Linked DNA regions of Homo sapiens. The protein of the gene in region 2 purifies or fractionates together with the protein of the main gene of each other region. This does not show direct contact. Each region holds a gene or a part of one and is shown on either strand. Other genes may lie near its edges. The genes, in order: UBR3 and KIRREL1.

The links.
Region 1: the proteins of KIRREL1 (region 2) and UBR3 purify together in Homo sapiens (co-immunoprecipitation; 2 studies listed by BioGRID and IntAct, with this or other methods). This does not show direct contact.

Annotation. Positions count from the first base shown.
Region 1 is NC_000002.12:169,827,053-169,839,169, reverse strand, and holds the start of UBR3 (E3 ubiquitin-protein ligase UBR3), read right to left. Parts: upstream 11,717-12,117; 5' UTR 11,663-11,716; coding exon 11,118-11,662; intron 1-11,117. UniProt on the Homo sapiens protein: E3 ubiquitin-protein ligase which is a component of the N-end rule pathway. Does not bind to proteins bearing specific N-terminal residues that are destabilizing according to the N-end rule, leading to their ubiquitination and subsequent degradation.
Region 2 is NC_000001.11:158,092,648-158,103,882, reverse strand, and holds the end of KIRREL1 (kin of IRRE-like protein 1 isoform 1 precursor), read right to left. Parts: intron 10,545-11,235; coding exon 10,437-10,544; intron 10,261-10,436; coding exon 10,121-10,260; intron 9,571-10,120; coding exon 9,493-9,570; intron 9,240-9,492; coding exon 8,763-9,239; 3' UTR 3,621-8,762; downstream 1-3,620. UniProt on the Homo sapiens protein: Required for proper function of the glomerular filtration barrier. It is involved in the maintenance of a stable podocyte architecture with interdigitating foot processes connected by specialized cell-cell junctions, known as the slit diaphragm.

The DNA.
Region 1 (12,117 bases), on a different chromosome or scaffold from region 2:
TGTGCATATATACCACATTTTCTTTATCCATTCTTCCATTGGTGGGCATTTAAGTTGATTCCATATTTTGGCTACTATGAATGGTGCTGCAATAAGCATGGGACTTCAGGTCTCTTTTCCATATATTGATTTCCCTTTTTTTGGATATATACTCAGTAGTGGAATTACTGGATCACATGGTAATCTATTTTTAGTTTTCTGAGGAACCTCATACTGTTCTCCACAGTGGCTGTACTATTAATAATTTACATTCCCACCAACAGTGTAGACACTGTGTTTTGAAAGCAGGTAACTTGTTTGACTTCACAGGTTCACAGCTAGAGAGAAATCTGCCACAGGATGAAGCGTATCTTTGAGTCTCACCGTATCTGATTGAAATGATGTTTAGATGAGACTCAACTTTAGACTTTTGAGCTGGTGCTAGAACAAGTTAAGACTTCTGGAGTTACTGGAATGGAATGAATGTATTTGTATGTGAAAAGGACATAAACTTTTTGGGGGCGAGGGGCAGAGGCAGAGCACCAGTCTGAACGTGTGTCCCCTACAAAATTCACATTGAAACTTAATCTCCACTGTGGTGGTATTAAGAGGCGGAAGCCTTTGGGGATGTGATTAAGTCATGAGGGCTCTGCCTTAAGCAAGTGCTGGAGGGAACTACCTTAGGCCCTGTTTGCCCTCTTCCCCGCTTCTGCCATGTGAGTATGCAAGAAGGCCTCACCAGACACACACACACACACACACACACACACACACACACACACACACACACACACACACACACAAATGCCTTAATCTTGGACTTCCCAGCTTCCAGACTGGAATAAATAAATTTCTGTTCTAAATTACTCCGTCTGATGTAACAGCAGCACAAACAGACTAAGATGGATGGCAATTTATGTATTCTGCCATAAAGTATTCCATTGAATGATTAAACTACAGTTCACTAATCTCACTGTTTCCATTTTTCCCTATTTCAGTGTTACAATGAACATACTTGAACATGTATCTTTCTGCAACCTCCTCATATTTAATGTGATGCCAGTCAACATCTTAACAGAAGTTTTCCAGAGAACTTGACAAGCTCCTGAAATTCAAATGAAAACAGGAACCAAGAACAGCCAAAAACCCTTTTGAAGACTAATAATAAGGAAATCCTGCCATATCAAAATACATTTTAATGTTCTAATAAAGTAGTATGGTATTGTTATAAGAGACATATCAATACAATAGAGAACTTAGGACACACATAGGTTTGGTCTGTGATAGAGGTGACATTATAGATCAATGGAGGAAAAAAATGTTCAATAAGTGAATCCTCATATTGAAAAAGATAAAATTAGATCTAATGATATGGTTTGGTTGTGTCCCCACCCAAAATCTCATCCTGAATTGTAATCCCCATAATCCCCACACGTCAAGGGTGGGATGAGGTGGAGGTAACTGGATGATGGGGATGGTTTGCCCTATGTTGTTCTCATGATAGTGAGTGAGTTCTCACGAGATGTAATGGTTTTATAAGCATCTGGCATTTCCCCTGCTCGCTTCTCCCCCCCTGCTGCTCTGTGACTAGGTGCCTTCTACCATGATTCTACGTTTCCTAAGGCCTCCCCAGCCATGCTGAACTGTGAGTCAATTAAACCTCTTTCCTTTATAAATCACCCAGTCTCCAGCCGTTCTTTTTCCTTTTCTTTTTGAGACGGAGATTTCCTCTTGTTGCCCAGGCTGGAGTGCAATGGCGTGATCGCGGCTCACCGCAACCTCTGCCTCCCAGGTTCAAGCAATTCTCTTGCCTCAGCCTCCCGAGAAGCTGGGATTACAGCCACACGCCACCACACCCGGCTAATTTTGTATTTTTAGTAGAGATGGGGTTTCTCCATGTTGGTCAGGCTGGTCTCGAACTCCCGACCTCAGGTGATTCACCTGCCTCGGCTTCCCAAAGTGCTGGGATTACAGGCGTGAGCCTCCGGGCCCGTTCAGGCAGTTCTTTATAGCAGTGCGAAAACAGACTAATACAGACCTCAATCTCATACTACATGTAAAAATAAATTCCAGATGGACAAAAGACCTAAGTGTACAATGAAAAACCTTAAATCTTTCAGTAGAAAACATATAAGCATTTTTTTAAACCAAGGTGAAGAAGATTTCTTTAACAAGATACAAATAATACAAACTGTAGAAGAAAAACTACATTTTTAATTTAAAATCGTTTACAACAAAATTATATATTTCAAGGTAAAAAGACAAGACACAAACTAGAAGATGAAATTAAGTATTTATACAACAAAGGATCAGCATCTAGAGTATGTACAGCATTCTTAAAACTCAGTAAAACAGAAAAACAAAACAGGCAAATAATATGAACCAGCAGTTCACCAAGAAAGAAGCCCAAATGGCCCCAAAACATATGAAAAGATGTTCAACTTTACTAGTCAAGAAAATATAAATTTTAAAAAGATGTTTGTATCCAACAGATTGGTAAAATATTATAAATTTATATATATAACACCAAGTGTCTTTTGGTTTTTTTTTTTTTAAGTTCTGAATTACATGTGCAGGATGTACAGGTTACATAGGTAAATGGTTGCTGTGGTGGTTTGCTGCACCTATCAACTCATCAACTAGGTATGAAGCCCAGCATGCATTAGCTATTTTTTCTGATGCTCTCCCTCTCCCTGCCCCCGACCCAACAGGCCCCTGTGTGTGTTGTTCCCTTCGTGGTGTCCATGTGTTCTCATTAACACCAAGTTTCAATAAGCAGAAAAACAAGACCTCAAATTCCTGGTGGGGCCAGGCGTGGTAGCCCATGCCTGTAATTCCAGCACTCTGGGAGGCTGAGGCGGGAAGATCACCGGAGGTCAGGAGTTCGAGACCAGCCTGGCCAATATGGTGAAACCCCCATCTCTACTAAAAATATGAAAATTAGCTAGGCATGGTGGCGGCCGCCTGTAATCCCAGCTACTCAGGCGGCTGAGGCAGGAGAATTGCTTGAACTCAGGAGGCGGAGGTTGCAGTGAGCCGAGATCGCACCATTGCACTCCAGCCTGAGTCTGATGGGGACAGAGCGAGTTTCCATCTCAAAAAAAAAAAAAAAAAAAAAAAAAATATATATATATATATATATATATAGAGAGAGAGAGAGAGAGAGAGAGAGAGAGAGAGAGAGAGAGAGAGAGAGACAGTGCACACAGGAATTTCAGGAAAATGGTTAACGTCTGGAGAGGAAAAGAGAAAGGGAAAGGTGGGTTGACCTTTCTTTGGTTTTTTGACTAAAAGCAACTCTAGAGCAAACATGGCAAAAGGTTAATATCTATTCATCTCAATGGTAAGTACAAAGGTATCTGTTATACTACTTTTGTACTTTTCTGTAAATTCAAATTGTTTCATAATTGAAAATAGTTTTAACTGAGTTTTATAATGATTTAAAAATTAGGCCACGCACGGTGGCTCACGCCTGTAATCCCAGCACTTTGGGAGGCCAAGGCAGGTGGATTGCCTGAGGTCAGGAGTTCCAGACCAGCCTGACCAATATGGTGAAACCCCACCTCTACTAAAAATACAAAAATTAGCTGGGCATGGTGGCATGCACCTGTAGTCCCTGCTACTAGGGAGGCTGAGACAGGAGAACCGCTTGAACTCAGGAGGCAGAGGTTGCAGTGAGCCGAGATCATGCAACTGCACTCCAGCCTGGCAACAGAGTGAGACTCCATATCAAAACAAACAAACAAACAAAATATGAATATTTTAGGTGTAGTATTGGTATTGTGGTTTTGGGGGAGTTGTTTGTTTTTTGCTTTCTTTTCAAGAGATGAGGTCACTTCATGTTGCTGAGGCTGGAGTGCAGTGACTATTCCCAGGTGTGATCATAATCCACTGCAGCCTCTTACTCCCAGCCTCAAGCAATACTCCCAACTCAGCCTCGGGAGTAGCTGGGACTACAGGTGCGAGCCACCATACCTGACATTATTTTTTAATTGTGGTAAAATATAAATAACATAAAATTTACCATTTAAAACATCTTAAGTGTACAGTTTTAGTGGCATTAAGTACATTCACATTGTTTTGCAACCATCACAACCATCGATCTCAAGGACTTTTTCATCTTCCCAAACTGAAACTCTGTACCTGTTAAAAAAATAACTCCCCAATCTCCCCTTCCCTTGGCCTCTGATAATCACTATTCTACTTTCTGTCTGTATGAATTTGACTATTCCGGGCACTTCATATAGACCGAAGCATACAAGCATTTGTTCTTTTGTGCTGGGCCTATTTCATTTGGCATAAGGTCTTCAAGGTTTATCTACATTGTAACATTCTAATGTGTCAGAATTTTATTACTTTTTAAGGTTAAATATTCCATTGTACGTATATTCCACATATTGCTTACCCATTCATCTGCTGATGGACATTTGAGTTATGTTTTAGAGTTCACATCTCTTTACTGAGATGCATACTCAAATATTTTTAAATTAAATTATAAGGTATCTGATATTTGCTTCAAAATAGTCCTGGCTGGGACGAAAAAGCAGTGGGACAGGGAGATAACAGATGAAATGGGATATAACTTTTCACTTATGAGAGCAGCAAAGATCAGAAACACTGATACCACCATATATACTGCCAGAATATGGGGAAACAAATTGTTTCATACATTGTTGGCAGGAATGTAAATTAATTTCTTTGGAGGGTTCTATCAAAGTTGAATTTGCAAATTTCCTTCAACCAAGATATAACTTCTAGGAATGTATCCTCATACATAAGCTCACACACATATGAACAAGTGTATACAAGAATACTGACTGCAACAATGTTTACAACAGCCCAAGTCTGGAAACAATTTAAATGTCTATCAGTAGGGACTGACCGCAAAAATCATAGTACATTACAAAAACATGGAAATACAATGAAATACTATTTAACTTTAAAAATGAAGCAGTTCTACTTTTGAGATAGTATCCATAAATATGTTAAGGGGAAAAAAGCAAGCTACTGAAGAGAGTAACACTATTCAACCAGACATTCACGTGGTTCAATTTCTGGCTACCACAGATCAGAAAACCTAAAAACCTCCCACAACACAGGCCAGGCACCACACTGTGGCTCACGCCTATAATCCCAGCTCTTTGGGAGGCTGAGGCAGGTAGACTGCTTGAAGCCAGGAGTTCAAGACCAGCCTGGCCAACATGGTGAAATACCATCTCTACAAAAAATACAAAAAGAAATTTAGCTGTGTGTGGTGGTGTGCGCCTACAGTCACAGCTACTTGGGAGGGTGAGGTGGGAGATCACTTGAGCCTGGGAGGTAGAGGCTGCAGTGAGCTGTGATATCACACCACTGCACTCCAGCCTGGGAGACACTGCGAGAACCTGTCACTAAAAAAAAAAAAAATCTAGAAATGCTGGATAAATTATAACTAATCTCTTTTAAACACATAAGTAACCTTAAAAGAAAAGGAAATTTCTTACTGAGGGGTAGGATGGAGAAAGGCACCTTTACTTTTTACTTTATCCACTTATTTTTATGTTATAATCAATGTGTATTACTTCTGAAACTAAAAAAAGAATGAAAGCACTCTGAAAAAAGCTGCTATGGATTTAATAATCAATGCCACCTCATGAGTAACTAAAGCAATGTAATCTTACAGTAACTTTTTGGGTATAGCAGCCACTTTTTTATCCAATTTAATTCAAAATTACTGACACCTCCTAAGTACAAGAGACTTAGTAGGTGCTGGCCTCTGGCTAATAGCAAAATGTGGTCCTTATCTTTTAAGGAGCTTAGAATATGTGAGGAAGAACAAGCAAGGAGACAAAAATATCTGTAATATAGGACAGAACATGAAACTCCTCATTCTCTGCACCAAAATTTGAGAACTAAATGTTTAAAATCCCAGTTTCCAGTTAGTATCCCATCAGAGCCCAAAACCAGCTAGTCAGACATTACAGTTGACCCTTGAACAACACTAGTTTGAACTACAAGGGTCCACTTATACAAGGATTTTTTTAACTAAACATGGATCAAAAATGCAGAATTCATGGGATCTGACACTCACATACATGAAGGGCAGACTTTTCATATAAGCAGCATTTCAGTATACCCTGAAGAGTGGGTGGGAGGTGGGTATTCTGGAACCAGTCTCCTATGTATACCATATACTGAGGAACGAGTGTATTTTAGACTTTCCATTACAGGTTATTTTGTTTTGAGTTCATCCACCCATAAAGCATTTTTTTTTTTTCCAGATGGAGTTTCACTCTTGTTGCCCAGGCTGGAGTGCAATGGCATGATCTTGGCTCACTGTAACCTCCGCCTCCTGGGTTCAAGCAATTCTCCTGTCTCAGCCTCCAGAGTAGCTGGGATTACAGGCATGCACCATCATGCCCAGATAATTTTGTATTTTTAGTAGAGATGGGGTTTCTCCATGTGGTCAGGCTGGTCTTGAACTCCCGACTTAAGGTGATCCGCCTGCCTCGGCCTCCCAAAGTGCTGGGATTACAGGTGTGAGCCACCACGCCCGGCCCCCATAAAGCATTTCTGACAATGACTGCACTTACTCACTAGTGGCAAAACTGTAGTTATACATACAGTTTTTTTGTTTTTTTTCCTGAGACAGAGTCACGCTCTGTCGCCCAGGCTGGAGTGCAGTGGCGGGATCTCACTCCAAGCTCACTCCAAGCTCACTCCAAGCTCCGCCTCCCGGGTTCACGCCATTCTCCTGCCTCAGCCTCCCGAGTAGCTGGGACTACAGGCACCCACCACCACGCCTGACTAATTTTTTGTATTTTTAGTAGAGACGGGGTTTCACCATGTTAGCCAGGATGATCTCAATCTCCTGACTTCGTGATCTGCCCACCTCGGCCTCCCAAAGTGCTGGGATTGCAGGCGTGAGCCACCGCGCCCAGCCACATACAGTTATTAGCACACAATTTCCATAGCCTTTGTGATTTCATCCCACAAATGAATCCTCAATTGTTTTCTTCCTTTGGTTTGTATATCTGCTAATACTGCCACATTGATTATATCAATACTACTCAGTCAAAAATAACTAAATCCTCCCCACAGTTCTATAATTGCTAATTTGAAAATTAAATATAAATACAGCTGTGATAGATTCAAGATTCTTCTCCATCTCCAATCAAGAACATCCTACAGGCAACAGTCAGACACTGGTGAAAAGGATTATGGCACAGAAAGATTTATTCTCATTTACTAAGAGCACAAATACAGCTGAAAAAAAGGAATCCTTCCTCTAAAAGTGACTAAACCATGAAATTTACAAACTTATGGCAGTTAGAATAAAAACCCCAAAATCAACACACATTCAATCTTTGGCAATCTAAAGGGGTTTTTAAAATACCAAAAACTTAGAAAAGTTCAAACATTCTGTTCATGCCAGTGTAGTCCAGCTTTGCCCATGAGAACACTGTTACAAGCTGTTGATGATTTCCAGTTCTAAAAAGGTTCCAGAGGCAGTCTTTTAGGTTGCAGAGCTGGTCAACATCACCTATTTCTCTTGAGGCAGTAAATTAGCTGTATAGCCCAGGAAAATTACTCTATCCAATCCAAGCAGTTAGAAAAAATTCAGAGTAATTGCATGGCCACAATACTGTTTATTGTTCAATCTTGCCCTTTATGAAACTGGACATGGCAACTGCTGACACATACAGGCAATAGCTCTGGTTTCAGACAAAGATAATAATAAATCTTTAAATATTATGTATCCGGCCGGGTGTGGTGGCTCATGCCTGTAATCCCAGCACTTTGGGAGGCCGAGGCGGGTGGATCACCTAAGGTCAGGAGTTCAAGACCAGCCTGACCAACATGGAGAAACCCTGTCTTTACTAAAAACACAAGAAAAAAAAAAAATTAGCCGGGTGTGGTGGCGCATCCCTGTAATCCCAGCTATTTGGAAGGCTGAGGTAGAGAATCACTTGAACCCGGGAGGCAGAGGTTGCGGTGAGCCAAGATCGTGCCACTGCAATCCAGCCTGGGCAACAAGAGCAAAACTCTCTCTCTCAAAAAAAAAAAAAAAAAAAAAAAAAAAATATATATATATATATATATAATGTACCAACTCATAGAGGGTTGCCAGACTGGGAAAATAATACTTACCTATGAGACACCAGTAAAAGCAAATACCATGAGGTTAGGATGTTGACTGTCTATAGCCTGGATGCCCTAAAACTGTATGAATACCTTCAAAGAAACTCACTGACATATTTCTGGTAGTACACTGAAGCATCACAAGCGATCAGACTTCCATCTCATCCACGACAACCTGATAATTACCACTGTATTCCAAAAGTCAGGAAAGAATCAGTGTTATTTCCTACCTTCAGGTTCTCTGGAGGCTTTCCTAAATGCTAACCCAGTCCAAGAAGTAAAAATGTCTAAATATCAGTAAAGGATTGCTCCAACTCCTGTTTTGATGTGCCTCTTTAAAACAAAACAAACAAAAAAAGTTTAAAAAGAAAGAAACAAAGGCCCAAATAAGAATAGCATATTAAGGAAAAAAAAAAAGATAAAACATAGAATTGAAAAGAAAAACCAGTAAGAATGCTATTTAGTAGGGGCAGTAAAGAGAAATGGTTGATTAGTCTGGCTCCAGAGCCCTGGAGCCAGCATGCCTAGCTTACTGCCTGTGTGAACTTGAGCAAGGTTTTTAACTCTGCCCTACTTTCCTCTTCTGTACAATGAGAATAATAAAAGTAATAATCTCAGAGTCAAAGAATAAATAAGTTAAATCACATAAAACAGCTAGAATTTGGCCACTTTTAACCAAATAGATAAAAGTCCAAAATTTTACTACTACTCTGTTGATGAGGCTGTTGGAAAACAGGCAGTCTCACAGAGTAATTAGTACTAAGCCTTAGGGAGGGCAATTTGGAAATCACACTTTTGAGAATTTATCCCACTGACTCTCTTGACCAGGTGGGGAAAAGACAGATACACCACGTTTTTAATTTTATACTGGAAAGCCAAATGCCCATGAAGAGACATTAAATCAAGAATGGCAAATTCACACGCACAAAAAATAAAAATAAAAATAAAAAAAGAAATTAAAGAATGGCAAATTGAAAACATGGAACACTATGCAGCAGTTTTTTTAAAAAAATAGAATGACGACACTGATTTTTTAATAGGAAAAATACATCTAAGATAACCAAAAAATGCAAGATGTAGAACAGTGGAAAGTATGTAACCCTTTGCATAAAAAGAGACTGAAAAACTAGGAAACATCTTTGCTTGTTCTGCACCAAGAGAAACTAAGCGGGAAGGAACTGGACAGATAGAAGACTAGATGTGAGAAAAACTTCCGTGTGTGTGTGTGTGTGTGTGTGTGTGTGTGTGTGTGTGTACTTTTTAGCTATATATTTTACCTATTCAAATATTAAATTTTAAAAAGTACTTTTAAAGTATCAGACATACAGTTCAAGAACTCAAATGTTGGCCGGGCGCGGTGGCTCACGCCTGTAATCCCAGCACTTGGGAGGCCGACGCGGGCGGATCACCTGAGGTCGGGAGTTCGGGACTAGCCTGACCGACATGGAGAAACCCTGTCTCTACTAAAAAAATACAAAATTAGCCAGGCGTGGTAGTGCATGACTGTAATCCCAGCTACTTGGGAGGCTGAGGCAGGAGAATCGCTTGAACCCAGGGGGCGGAGGTTTCAGTGAGCCGAGGTCGCGCCATTGCACTCCAGCTTGGGCAACAAGAGAGAAACTCCGTCTCAAAAAAAAAAAAAAAAAACTCAAATGTTAGCTGCAATTATGTTGTTATTATTATTAGCAAATTCAAAATACCTCCTTTCTGAAGACTTTTTCTTACTCCCTCTGCACAGAAACCTCATCTCCCTCCTCTAGCTACCAAGTTATTGTTTAAGGAATTTATTACTTTCTACTCCAGTGCAAGTAGAGTAAGGGGTTGGTCAATGTTTCATTCATTTTTAATATCCAAGAAGCCTTGCTTGCACATAGTAGGTACAAACATTTTGGAGTAACAGTAACCTTACAAGTACTCCGAAGAAAAAGGTGACCATTTATAAAAAGATTGTACTCTGTCATTAATCCTAAGACCTGAAAATTGAAGAAGTTTAATAACTGATAGCAACCTGTAGTTGCTAATATTCTTTCAACTACTGCCCATCCAAAATCGCCCCTTTCACTTTTTCCTTTTTTCTCAGACTGTCCCTGACATTGACATCATGTTCCAAGCCACGACCCTACATGTACCAACTCTCTGTAACTCACTGCAAACTCTGAAATGTCTTTTCTCATAAGTCCCAACATCTGATGCATCGCTTCTGTCAAAAGGGCATTTGTTGTCTCCTTTTAGACAGAGGTTCACGTATCAGTGAGTGAACAAAGTGCCCTTAACTGGAGAAGACCTAACACTTGATTCCTGGTTCGCTCAGTATTTTGTTTGTTCTCCTGGTATGGAGGGTATTCTGTAACTGACTGCTCAGTAGCCCAATTCTAAATGTCATTCCAGCATACCAAATAATCCACTGACAGCTCAACAGTCACTTTTCATGCAGGCCCCTCCCCTTCCCTCCTCCCTCAACCCTCAAGAGCTCCTTCTCTCACAGTGACAGACACACTGGCAGTTCAGAAGACCTTTTCCTCAAGCGTCCTTCCCTGCACGTACAAGACCACCTCCCCAGCTCTCATCATCCCGCGAGCCAATACGGTCCCCAATAACATCCCCTCCCAGCCAATCCAAATCACAACCTAAGTCTCTTCCCAAGAACCAGGCTTTACAGCCTTTCCCAACAAGTACACACTTGACAGCTCGACACGAGCTTCCCCAAAAATCATTTCCCCTCACTCCCCTCCTACCCCATACACTGGCTCTTTTCTCGCTATCATTTACCCACCCTGGCTTCCCCAAAATTCACAGCCCGGTTTCCTAAACATGCTCTCCGCTCTCCTCTCCCCTCCTTCTCCTCCCCACCCCCTTTCCACCGCTGACAGCTCAGTCACCTCCATCCCCCTGTGGCTGCACCCTCCCCCGCACCCTCCCCTTGACAGCTCAGAGTGGGCTCCCAGTGCTCCGCTCCAGGCCCTCCCGCGACGTCCCCGGCCCAGGGTCGCCTCGCCCGCGGGGAGGGCTCCACTCACCCGCTCTCCCGCATCACGTTGCTGTCCCCGCAGTCGCAGGCGCCCCCGGCCTGGCTGCGGAACATGTTGAAGTCGTGTCCGGTGTGGTCGCCCTGGTGGAAGCACTCGGCGCACAGCGACATGCAGGGCGAGATGCCGCACGTCCGGCAGCGGTAGGCCACGAAGTTGGCTGTCCAGACCAGGCCGCAGAGCGCCGCGGGATCGTAGGCCCGCACCGCCGCGCAGAACTCGTCGTAGCCGCCGCCGCCCGCCAGAAGGCACTTACACCACTCCAGGGCCTCCTCCTCGGCCGCCCCCGGACCGCCCCCGCCTCCGGCCGCCGCCGCGTCCTCGCCGCCGGCAGCCGCGGCCAGCGGCCGCTCGGCGCTCAGCACCCGCTCCAGCAGCGCCTGCAGCTCCTCAGCACCTGCGCGGTTGTCCGGCCGGCTGAGGGCCGCCTTGAGGTGCGCGGCGGTGGCCGCCTTGTCTAGGGCCAGCCCCGGCGCGGGCAGCTCGGGCTGTGACGGCTGCTGGCCCCCGACGGCCGCCGCGGCCGCCGCCGCCATGATGAGAGCTCAGAATTTGGAGAGTCCAGGGCCAGCGGCTCCTCCAGGGAGAGTGAGGGAATAGACTGCTGCGATTGCTCGGCCCGCCCAACTCTCGCGATACCCGGAGCGTCCGCGCTCCTCCGCCCGCAGCCCCGCCCCTACACACGCCCCCTCGGGCTGCAGAGCCTTCCTCCCGCCCCTCTCTCCTGGGCGCCTGTGGACCAAGCTAGGCTCCCAACTTTCTAAGTTAAGAGCTACTGAAATAAAGTACTCACCTTATAGGAAATCTTTAATAAGGGCAATTATTTCTTTATTTGCATAGACTACAGGAATTATTCACATCATCTTTCAGATGTACTTTAGGCATCTGCATTTTGTCTGAGATGTACATTCCTACTGTTATCAAAGTCCAGCGGGCGACAGAATGAAACCCCAACTTAAGGAAAACAAAAACTGTAGGAAAAGCAATCCAA
Region 2 (11,235 bases):
TTCATGTTGTGTTTGTGGCAGGGAGGTGTGTGGCGTGGGATGCTACAGAGTGAGGCGGGTGGGGTGGGAGGGCGGTAATATGCTTCAGAGAGTTAATAGACCAAAGTAATCAACTCACATTTGAATAGCATTTAGCAATTTACAAAAGGCTTTTGTCTATCTCATCTCATTGAGTTTTTACACCATTTTAAATATAAAGAAATGGTAGCTCAAAAAGGTGTGCTGACCTGCCATGCATTGCAGTTACAGGAGGCTTTGCTGGGATTTTAAGCTAGATCTTCCCATTCCAAAATCCTTGTTCTTTCCATACCCCTTGGGCAAACGGAGACATCTTTCCTGATGTCTCTAAGGAAGAGGCAAAGGAGGGAAAGGGACAGATGGCCACTGCTTCCCTTTCTCTAGGCTAACAAAAGCTCACCTTTACTGGGTATTCACTTGCTAAGAACTCTGCTAAGCATTTTCCATGGGATAGTAACTATTACTAGTCCACTTCACAGAGGAGAAAAGAGACATGCAGAGAGGTAAAGTAACTCACCCAAGGAGCAAATGGAGAAGGCAGGGTTTTAGCACTACCTGTACTAATCAGGATAGGATATACTGTGTTGCAGTAACAAACAACCACAAAATTTCAATATCTTAACAAAGATTCATTTCTCCCTCAAACTACATATTCACCATGGGTTGGCTAAAGGGCTCGGGACCCAGCCAGACAGATTCCACTATGACAAAGCCATACCATTTGGAATAAATGGGCTCCTGTCGCTAGGGCAGAGGAAGACAATGCTGGAGGATCTCACACGAGCAATTAAATGCTTTGGTCTGGAAGTGACATGCCACTTCTGTTTATAGTCAGCTTGGCCTTGTCTAACAGCCAGGGAACTCAGAGAATTCAATATGAATAAGTACTGGTCATGTCTATCGGCTTGGTAGACCGACTTGAAGGTCCATGCTTTTAATCACCATGCTATACTACTTTATCAAGCATGAACTCTGTCAGGCCTCTGAGCCCAAGCCAAGCCATCGCATCCCCTGTAACTTGCACGTATACATCCAGATGGCCTGAAGTAACTGAAGATCAACAAAAGAAGTAAAAATAGCCTTAACTGCTGACATTCCACCATTGTGATTTGTTTCTGCCCCACCCTAACTGATCAATGTACTTTGTAATCTCCCCCACCCTTAAGAAGGTACTTTTTAATCTCCCCCACCCTTAAGAAGGTTCTTTGTAATTCTCCCCACCCTTGAGAATGTACTTTGTGAGATCCACCCCTGCCCGCAAAACATTGCTCTTAACTTCACTGCCTATCCCAAAACCTGTAAGAACTAATGATAATCCACCACCCTTTGCTGACTCTCTTTTAGGACTCAGCCTGCCTGCACCCAGGTGAAATAAACAGCCATGTTGCTCACACAAAGCCTGTTTAGTGGTCTCTTCACACAGATGCACATGAAAAACTCCCCTAGGATAAATTCCTTTTATGTATTGTGTTTATGGTTTGCTTCTCCTCCCTCTTTCCTTCCCTCCATACCTGCATTCCTCCAGCACATGCTGAGAAACTACATGCACTCTGTTGGGTGATGGATACTAAAATAAATGATACATGCTCTCTGCCTCTCAGTGACCTTCTTTTAGGAGGAAAGTGCTAATGTGTCATACACAACATCCTGTTATCAAAGCAGAAGGGCTATAAATGAGATGAGATCAGTGACATAATAGCTAACCCACGAGACTTCCAGAGAGGAATAGAAGGTGAGTAATGAGTCAGGCAAGGCTTCCTGTAGGAGATGGCCTTTGGGCTGGGCCTTGAAGATAAGTAAAACTTAGAAATGGGAAAGTAAAGGGACTCCAGGCAGAGAAAAGAGCTTGGACAAAAGCACAGAGGGAGGAAAGTTCAGGGGCATACCACAAACAAGGCATAATTCCATTTAACTGTGTTGAAATGTAGGGTAAGTGAAAGGGAGGGTTGTGAAGTAAGTGAAAGATGTGGGGTCATCTCATGGAGAAATTTGAACTCACACAGGAGTGTGTTTATGCCTGGGCCAATAGCTCCTGTTGTGACACAAATGCCTCACAATGAGGGGGTGGCTTTTACAACTTTGCAAAGCCAGATGATAAAGGGGCTGTGTCATTATTACTTATCCTCAGGCTGGAGGTGACTTAGAGGGGCTGGGGCTCCCATCACAGAAAGAGGCCTAATACACAGGGACAAAGTCCTGTGGCCTTTCTTGTGGCTGAGAGTTGGTTTAGGCCCTTGGGGCCTTATGTAGTGCCCTATACAGACTCGTCCCAAAGAACCTGCTGGCCCTGTGCTGGGGTCTGGGGATGTGGAGATGAATAAATGTATCCCAGGTGGACACATAACATAGGAAGCGCCCCAGCACCACTTGGCCTAATAGTATTCACCTGTGCCTCCACATTTGCACAACTTTGCTTCCTCTCCTGGTCTTTTTTCCCTACTCTTTTCTGTTTGCTTTTGTATTCTATCAATGCCATTTTTACCTATGCCAGTGCAACTTACCTCAATGCAGCCTCCAAATATACCTGTACGTCGGCCTCTCATTCCCATCTGGATTGGATTCACCTTGGGCTACCTATAGGTTCTTGGTCCTGGCTACATGCCTCCAAACCCCAGGCCCCATGGCACCTTGCACCCTTCCTCAGCTGCAGCTCCTGTGCCGTGACTTCTAGCCCTCTTGGAAATGGGTTGCATTATTTCGAAAGTATTTTTTCAGCTCTTACATCCTGTCTTCCTCTCTGACTATGTTGGGTGTCCCTTGTGTACAAAAAAGGCTACGGTAAACTGTCTTGAGTTTGCTTCGTTGTTAACTGGATGAAGAAAACAATAAACCCTATTTCTCTAATGATTTATAGCTTTAAAAAACATTATCTGGGCCAAGCACAGTGGATCACACCTGTAATCCCAGCGACTCCAGAGGCCGACGTGGGTGGATTACTTGAACTCAGGAGTTCAAGACCAGCCTGGGCAACATAGCCTCTACAACAAAACAAAATAAAAGTCCAAAACAAAATAAAACAAAACATTATCTGAAAACTATTTCAGGTATCTGCAAACACTCCTGAGAAATGAGCAAACTGAAACCCTTGGGAACTCAACTCAGAGAATTTAGGATTTCTCAGCAGGATGGCCTCTGTGTGTGTGCACTGCTGCACCATCTGTTTTTTCATTCTGCTTCACTACAAGTTCAAAAGGTTGGAGACCTTGTAACTTTGCTTTTTACCCAAACCACAGCGTTTTAAATAAACAAAACCAGCCATTCTTACACACTTGTCCCAATTCCTTTGGGATCTAGATCTCAGATTCAAAAGTCTCCCCTTTTCCCATTCCCATAATGCGATTTGGCACAGAACATTTGGATGCTGTTTTCCAATAGCAGAAGCCTCCAGCTGTTTGTCCCTGAACTGCCATAATTGGCCTCAGGGTTCTGCACAAGTGGCAAACTAGAGAATACGTTTTTGCCCCACGGCCTGGAGGTGGCACAAACATTGCTTCTGCAATTTCAATCCAAACCTGTTTTTTCCCCAAACCAGGACTAACACCCAAAGCCAGGCAGGCTTTTAAGTAACTAGCCGTTAATGCATTAAATAACACAAAACATGGTACTTTTTAAAACATTTATATTTATATATATAAAAAAATTAAATATATATAATATATAGTGTGTTTGAGACTAAAAATATAGTACATAATATTTTTAAAAAAAGGAAAAAAAAGTAGAATAGGAAAAGGTGTGAGGGACACACAGATACACATTGCTAAAAACCTACAATGGTTTGTCCTAACAAAAATAATATCTTTTTTTCTCTTCTCTTAATTATCATCATGGATCCATTTATTTTTGGGGTCTGGGTGGAGAAAATTCAACAGGAGCTAGAAATGGAGGTTGCAATGCCAAGAATGGCTGGGTAGAAAATGTGACCACAGGGAGCCCTGGGCCTCTTCTGGTGAAATTGGACTTCTCAAAATTTTCTGGGTCACTGTTGCTAACAAGATTGTGTGGAGTTTTACTGTATTGGGATTTTGGCTGCTCTTTCCCCAGAGTTAGGGTATTCTCAGGGGGGACAGCATCTGAAGAGCTCCAAAAGCAAACAGAAGAGCTCAGGGCCCATCGATACTCAACAAGGCCAGTGGTTGGGGCCAGCAAAAAACCAGGGTAGGGACAGCAGACTGGCAGGAATGAGTGACAGTTCTATGCAAATGGAGTTATTATTATTATTGTTATTATTAATAAGGGCAGGTTTGTACCAGAACTGCCCAGTATGGCCTGTGACTTCTGCGCAGCAATTATTTCTCCAGGGACAGGGCCTGAAGCTACCTCACAGTGATGCAAAAAAATGGGATTCCCCACTAACCCCCACACACACCCCCTTCCTACCAAACCACACATCTCTCAGTCCTCTCCAGCAGCCCAGAGGTGAACGTCAGGACCACGCTGACAAAGATGAGCCAATGCCTTTCACAAAAAGCCTGGCCTTGAGGAGAGGAGGAGAAATACCATAGGGGGATAGGAGGAGGCCAAGAGAAGGGAATGGGATATTTAAATGCTAATTTTACAGCATCTTCACAAAAATAAATGCCTTTCAATTACATCCCTTGGCCTGTGCACTTCAGTGTTCATTATGGCCTCGCCAGGGTCAGGAGCTTCACTAATCCTTTTGGGCAATTCTCAACATGCACAGTGGCCTGTAGAGGCACCAAGCAGTGGCCTGGCTCAGGTCAGACAGCACTAACTTGGGGAAGCCAGGATTTCTGAGGCCAGGGTGCTTGGGGAGGAACTGGAGTTCAGCAGTAGGGACAGAACCTTCCACACAGCAAAGAACAAGGCAGTTCGCTCCAAACGGGTCTTGGCTTTAATGTGGTTTTCTTCAAACCCAAATGGCTGAACATTGCTATGAACATAGGTCATGTATATTGAGACACTGATTCCGTTTTATGGAGCCCTGTGGCTCCTGACAGGTTAACGAGAGGGCACGAAACTCCAGTGCGACGTGCTCCATTTTGAAAGCAGATAAAGCTCCCCTCATCAGAGTGAAGAGGAAAGTAGCCCTGCTGGAATAAGGGGAGAGCGTACCGCTTGAAGACAGGGTGCTCAGATGTTTTCATTCCAAGCAAGACAGTGATAACAGCACAGCACTGCTCCCATCCCTGGCCCCTTTCCTTTCTCACTTACTAGGCTTTTTGCTTCATGCAAACTCTGTGGCTGGACTTTGAGGGATCCAGAATTTAGGATATAGGGCGGGTCCTTCACGAGGGAAGTGACCGTGGCTCAGCCAAAATCACAAGATCCTCCTCAAGATCCAGAATGTATTCCAAAGCTGTTGTACCCCTTTCCCTCCACCGGCTCCCCTTGCAAGCTGCTCCTTCTCAGGCAGGGGCAGCTGTGCTTACTCCCCGACCTCTGGCTCCAGGCACCTTGGACTGCAGGCTTCACCTGTTTGGTGAGAAGAACAAGCTGTCCCTGGGCCAGAGGAATGTTCCTAAGGATCAGGGTGGAGGAAGGCTCCTCCCATTTTCCCCTACAGAAGGAGTGCCTGAAACCTAGGCACATAACAATATCCCTATGTGCATACTATGTCCTGCCCTGGCAAAAGGCACCTTTGCAAACCCATCAGAAATGAGTGGGGAGCAGCACAGATGACCCGATAGCCAAAGGATAGCCCCACATCAATTTTACTCTGAGGTTTAGGGTGTATTTTGTGTTGCTGTTTGGGATAAAGGGGTCCCTGGTGGAAACTAATTCACTTCTGACAAGATAATGAAGCCCATGGTGAAAGCTTCTTTGAACAGGAGAGAACCCCCCCAGCCAGCTCTCCAGCCCTCACCATGCTTGCTACTGTTCCCAGTTCCTTGCCAGCAATGGGCAGTCCCATCCCTACCCCCAACCCTATGGGTATAACAAAACCAGAATAGTTTTAGGTTTATGCAACCCTCCCCCTTCATTTTACAGGCCAGACAAATTGGGGGCAATGAACAGAAAGTTAGGCCGAGATCTAACCTTTGCAGCTTCAGGACTGGGTCCTGGGTCTCCTGACCTTTAGTCCCTTGCTCTTTCCACTAAAACAAGCCACCAAAGGTGATCAGGATCACCAACTACTGAGGCATCACCATGTTGCAGGACTCCAGGATTCGACAGCAAAGCTCTGTGATCAAGGACGCCTTCCACTCCCCAGAAAAGCTATTCCACTGGGCCCATCAGGTAGGTTCCAATTCAGATTCTGATGCACCAACACGTAAGTTACAGAGGGCAGAGACTACCTTGGTTGCTGATGCTTCCCTGTGCCTTCCAGGGTGCTTGTTTGACACCCAAGAGGCTCCAGTTACCTTGTTAAGGAGTAGAGGACAGTGAAGTAGCTCTGTGTCAGGCTTCTGGAAACTAGGCTTCCTTTCTCAACAATTCTCCCTGCACCATCAGCTCAATTACCTAGTAACCTTAGGCCCTCTCTCCATCATTTCAGTAGAATGAAACTAATACTTAAGCTAAAAGGGGATAAATAAGAGAATCTAGCCAAACCCAAAACAAAAATGAATTCTTTTTGGAATATGCATGTTTTAAAAGCCACCATCTTTAGACTTCAAGTCTTTGGATTCCCCCATGGTTTCTGGTTTTTGTGAAAATAATAGAAATTTGCATGAATTTGTCTGTACAAGAACCTGAATTTCTTGACAGACCTTCCCACTGAGCTCTCATAAAAGGACTCTATAGAAAGGTATCAGCTTCCAGGGATGGAATACAGCTGGAAGCCTGTAAATGCCCCAGATAGGGCCCACTCCACAGGAGTTTTCCCTGCTGAAATGAAGGAGGATGCACAGACTTCCTGTGAAGTTAAAATTAGAGCTACTTGCTTCCTGGGTATTATCTGGTCCTTCCTACAAGGGGTTGGCCAGGAATGTCGCCCCCCAGACCCATCCATAAGGGTGGTAATGGCCTGTGGCTGATAAGCATGTAACTCATTAAAGCGAACATGAATTATGAATGGTGACCACGGAGAAAGGGCGAGGAACATTTTGGGAACTGCACCAGAGGCCCTGTCTCCCACTGGGCTGGACATGCAGCTGGGGAGGCGGGAAACAGCCAACTCCAGACACTGCTTTTTAGGAAGGCGAGGCTGGGGCAGGGGTACAGGTTCTCCTTGGAGCGCCTGTTCTCTTTGGTCAGAAAGTGGTGGCTGAGAAGCAGTCACATGGAAGGTGTGTGTTGGATGTGCGTGCACATGGAGGAGGAGAAATGGCCTGTGTAATGCCTGCGGTGCCCTTCCGCACCACCTTCTCCCGGTCAGCACAAGTTCTCTGTCAGGGCCATTTCCAGGCCCCTTACCTCTCCAGGTCCCCTCACCCATCTCTCTCCTAACACTGTAACACTTAACAGTGTGTCCGAGGCTCACAAGTACCCACTCCCCACACAACCGCCCACATAGGGTCGGTCATCCAAAGCTTGACACTCAAGGCACTGAAAGTGGAAGAAGGAATCTGATTGGTCCAAGAAAAAAAAAAAAGACACTTAAAAACCAAAACCTGTCTCCCATACCCCCTGGAAGGTGGCCTCCAACCAACTGATGGGACATAGGAGAGTAGAGACTGAGAGCCAGGCCCCCTCCGTAACCCTATCAGAGTCCACTGTGTGACAGGTCTGGCAACCTGAATGTTTAAAAATGGATTCAAAGTGCTTGGAGACTGAAAGAGTAATGGAGGGTGTTAGGAACCCCATGGAGAAGAATAGGTACTACCTTTCCTTTCCACTGGGACTTGTATTTGGGTGGGGGAATCCCTACAGCTTTTCTTCCCAAATGAGGTTTTCATTGTTTTTTGTTTTCTTTGAAAAAGAGCCTACAGCACCCCCACCCCTACCTCACCACTCCCCAAACCAGCTCAAGAGTTAAAGCCAGGAAGTGGGGCAGACTGGGGAGAGGAGGCTTGTGTGGCTCCCTCTAGTGTTGGTTCACTGCTGTGCAGCACACAGCAGTATCTGGGTCAATGAGGACATGGTCCTAGCCTTTCTTTCTCCACCAGGACCCTGACTTATCTGGCTGGCCCAGCATGGAGGAGAAGGAAAGCGGGCCGTGCTGCCGGGGGGATTCCTGGATCCCTCTGCATGCTGACAGACAGCTGTCCACAGTGGGTAGCCAAGGTGACTGGCATTTTGATCCCAGCTGAATGAAGACTGGATTTGAATGCAGTGCCAGGGCTGTTCTGTAGACAAGAGCGAACAGTACCCTGTTCGCTCCCTTCTGCAGTACCCTGAGGAAGGAGAGAGGCACCCAGGGCACGAATGCAGACAACAGAGGGACTGGCCAGGCTATCCCGTTTTCCACCTGTCTGTGCCACAGCCACCCACTCCCATACTTCATGTCCCTAGGCCAAAGCCTGCCCATCCCTGGGTACCCCCATTTCCACTTATGGGAGATCAGAGGGGTGGGATAGAAAGGGAATGCTAAAAAGTGCCCCCCTCTGCTTTCCCTAACCTTCACTTTCCCTGTCCCCATTCTAGGGTCAGGCAAGAGTGCAGGTCAGAAGAGACACATCCTCCCGAAGAAGAGGGAAGGGCAGGCCCAGGAGGCTGGGGCATGCACAGAGCACCATCCTCGGGACGGGGTGTTTCTGGGAGACCTGCTCCCCACCTGCCATGGTGGGAGGAAGAAGGCTGGTCCGAGAAGGGAGCAATGAGCAATGCCCCTGAATATCAGGGAACAGCTGTGAAAGCCTTCTCCTCTGCCCCGCAGAGATGCCCCAGCCAGGCTCTGGCCCCTACACGTGAGTCTGCATGCGCTGCTGGAATCGCTGGCCGTAGTCCGAGTGCTGGGAGGTGTAGGAGAATCGAGTGGCTGTGGCGTACTTGCCAATGGGGTCATACGCCTCATATGGGGTCCGCTCCAGGCCAGAGGGTGGGGCCTGGGGGTAGCCCAGTCGGTAGGTGGGGTACCCAGCTGCCCCAGGGAAGGGATGGGAGTTGAACTTCTCATAGTTCTCGTAGGACAGCTGGCTGGTTGTGTCAGTGCCAGCTGGGGCAGCAGGGCCAGGGGGTGTGGGCTCAGGGCCATAGTCAGAGGCAGGGCCCCGGCTATAGGTGTTGAGCTGGGCATAGCCGCTGGAGTGGGAGAGACGGGATGAGGGGCGGCCGTCGAAGCGGGCAGGGCCAGGGGCACGGTAGTCAGCATAGAGCACTGCCCTGGAAGACGGGCGGTCTTCATGGGCACGCACGTTGTAGTAGCCATTGGTGGGGTCCTGGGGGCAATGAGAGAAGAGGATGGAGGCAGTGTTCCCTCTTGGGTGGGGATCAAGTCTCACCATGGCTTTCTGGGCCTCTTCCTCCAGCTCTCCCTATGTCCCCATCTAGCATTCCACCTCCTCTGCTCCTTCAAAAACCCTCCCAACCACTCCTCCCCAAGTCTGTCCTCACCTCACCTCCCCGCTACAGGACCTCAGAAACCCACTGGCCCACCAGCCCTCATGCCCTGGCCCCTTCCCCCTTTCCCACCTTCATCTCATACTCCTCCCGGGTGTCGATGGTGTCGCAGCGCAGGTCCTGCTTCAGATCCACATCATCCTTAAACGACTGTGGAGCAGCAGGAGTGGGACGTCAGCAGACGGAAGCCCTGCTCTTTTCGCCCCTCACCAACCCCTCCCCACGCTCAGAGGCCACCTGCTCATGGGTGGGGTCTGAGGTCAAGGGCAGACTTGAGTTCTGGTCCTCTCAGCAGAGGCTCTGGGATGTGGTGGGAAGAGGCCAGAGACCTTGGTTCGAGCACTAGTTTGGTTGCTAACATGTAATGTGACCTTGTATATGTCACTGCCCCTCTCCAGGGCTGTTTCCTCATCTCAGCAATGAGGCAGATGGACCAGAAAGCCTCTGGGGGCTTCCAACTTTCACACACTGTGGGGCAAAGGAAGTCTTTGGACAATCCCAGCTGCCTATCCTCTGCTGGAGGAAACTAGCCTGGGGCGTGTGTGAGAGAATGTGTGTGAGTGTGGGAGAGTGTGTGTGGCAGGACCAGGGAAGACCGACTGAGGAAGGAGAGAATGACCGCGGTTATTAGAGATCTGGGATGGAGCTGGTCCTCAGAGGGTGGAGAAGGCAGGAGGCCAGAGAGGAGCAGGACCCTCACCGAGTAGATGGCCTTCATGACCCGGGTTGCTGTGGAGACGCTGGCGGTGTCATCCTCCCGGTCAGAATGCATCGTAAGTGGCTCTCGGTTCACTGTCTCCACCTTGATATCCAGCTTCCTCAGGGTCACGTCTTTGCGACCTGGGACGGGAGAGGCAGCCTGGAACAAGTGCTTCCTGCTGGTCTCTGCAGCGGCTGCTTCTGGCTCCCTCTGGGCTGGAGCTCAAGGGCCAACCTCCCATCCACCCCAAGCACTGCCTGTCATGGCCCTGGAAGAGCCAGGGGAAGGCTGTGGGCTGCACAGGGCCCATACTCACTGCCTTTGCGGCGCCGGTAGAGGAAGAATACCAAGGCGATGAAGAAGAAGATGAGCAGGATGCTCGCGCCGATGGTGGCCCCAGCTATGATGCCCACAGGTAACACCTCTTTCGATGGGGAAGGAAAGGTGGAGGGGTGAGGCTGGAGTTATACTGGGAGCTAAGCTCAGTGCTGGCTAAAGGCTAGGCCACAGCCACAGAGGCAACCTTGGCTTGTGTACAGGGCTAAGTTTTGACTGAGCCTGGGGACAGTGTTAGGTTTAAGTCAAGGTTGGATTAGAGAGGAAGGTCTGCATTGTGGTTGGATTTTGGTCTGTGCTCCAGCTCCATCAGAATGGAGATCATGGTCATGTCTCATCCCTGCAGCTGGGGCAGGAGTTTGCCCCTGGTCTTGGTTGTCTGTCGATCCCTGTCCTTCAGCCCACCTGACTATGATGCTTGGCCCCTCGCTCTTCTTTGAGGTCAGCTGTCTCCAAACTCTCCAATCTGCCACCCGTGTTCCGACATCTTTCACCACTGTGCCATCCATAATACCACTGTGACTGCCGAATGTTCACCTATCTACTCAGGGCTCCAACAGTTTTCCTTGGTTTCCTCTGCTTCCCAGAGCTGAGGAAGAGCTCAGGAATCCTGCTTCCAGCCTTCTCTGTCTTCCTAGCAGCCCTAGTTGAATCCAGATCCTGCTTATAGCTCTTCCCCTCTGAGATCTTTCCCTGTGGAGCCCCACGTTACTGTATCTACTCCATTCTTCCCCACCCCCAACCCCCTTGCTGGCATCCTTAGTTAAGACTGAAGTGAT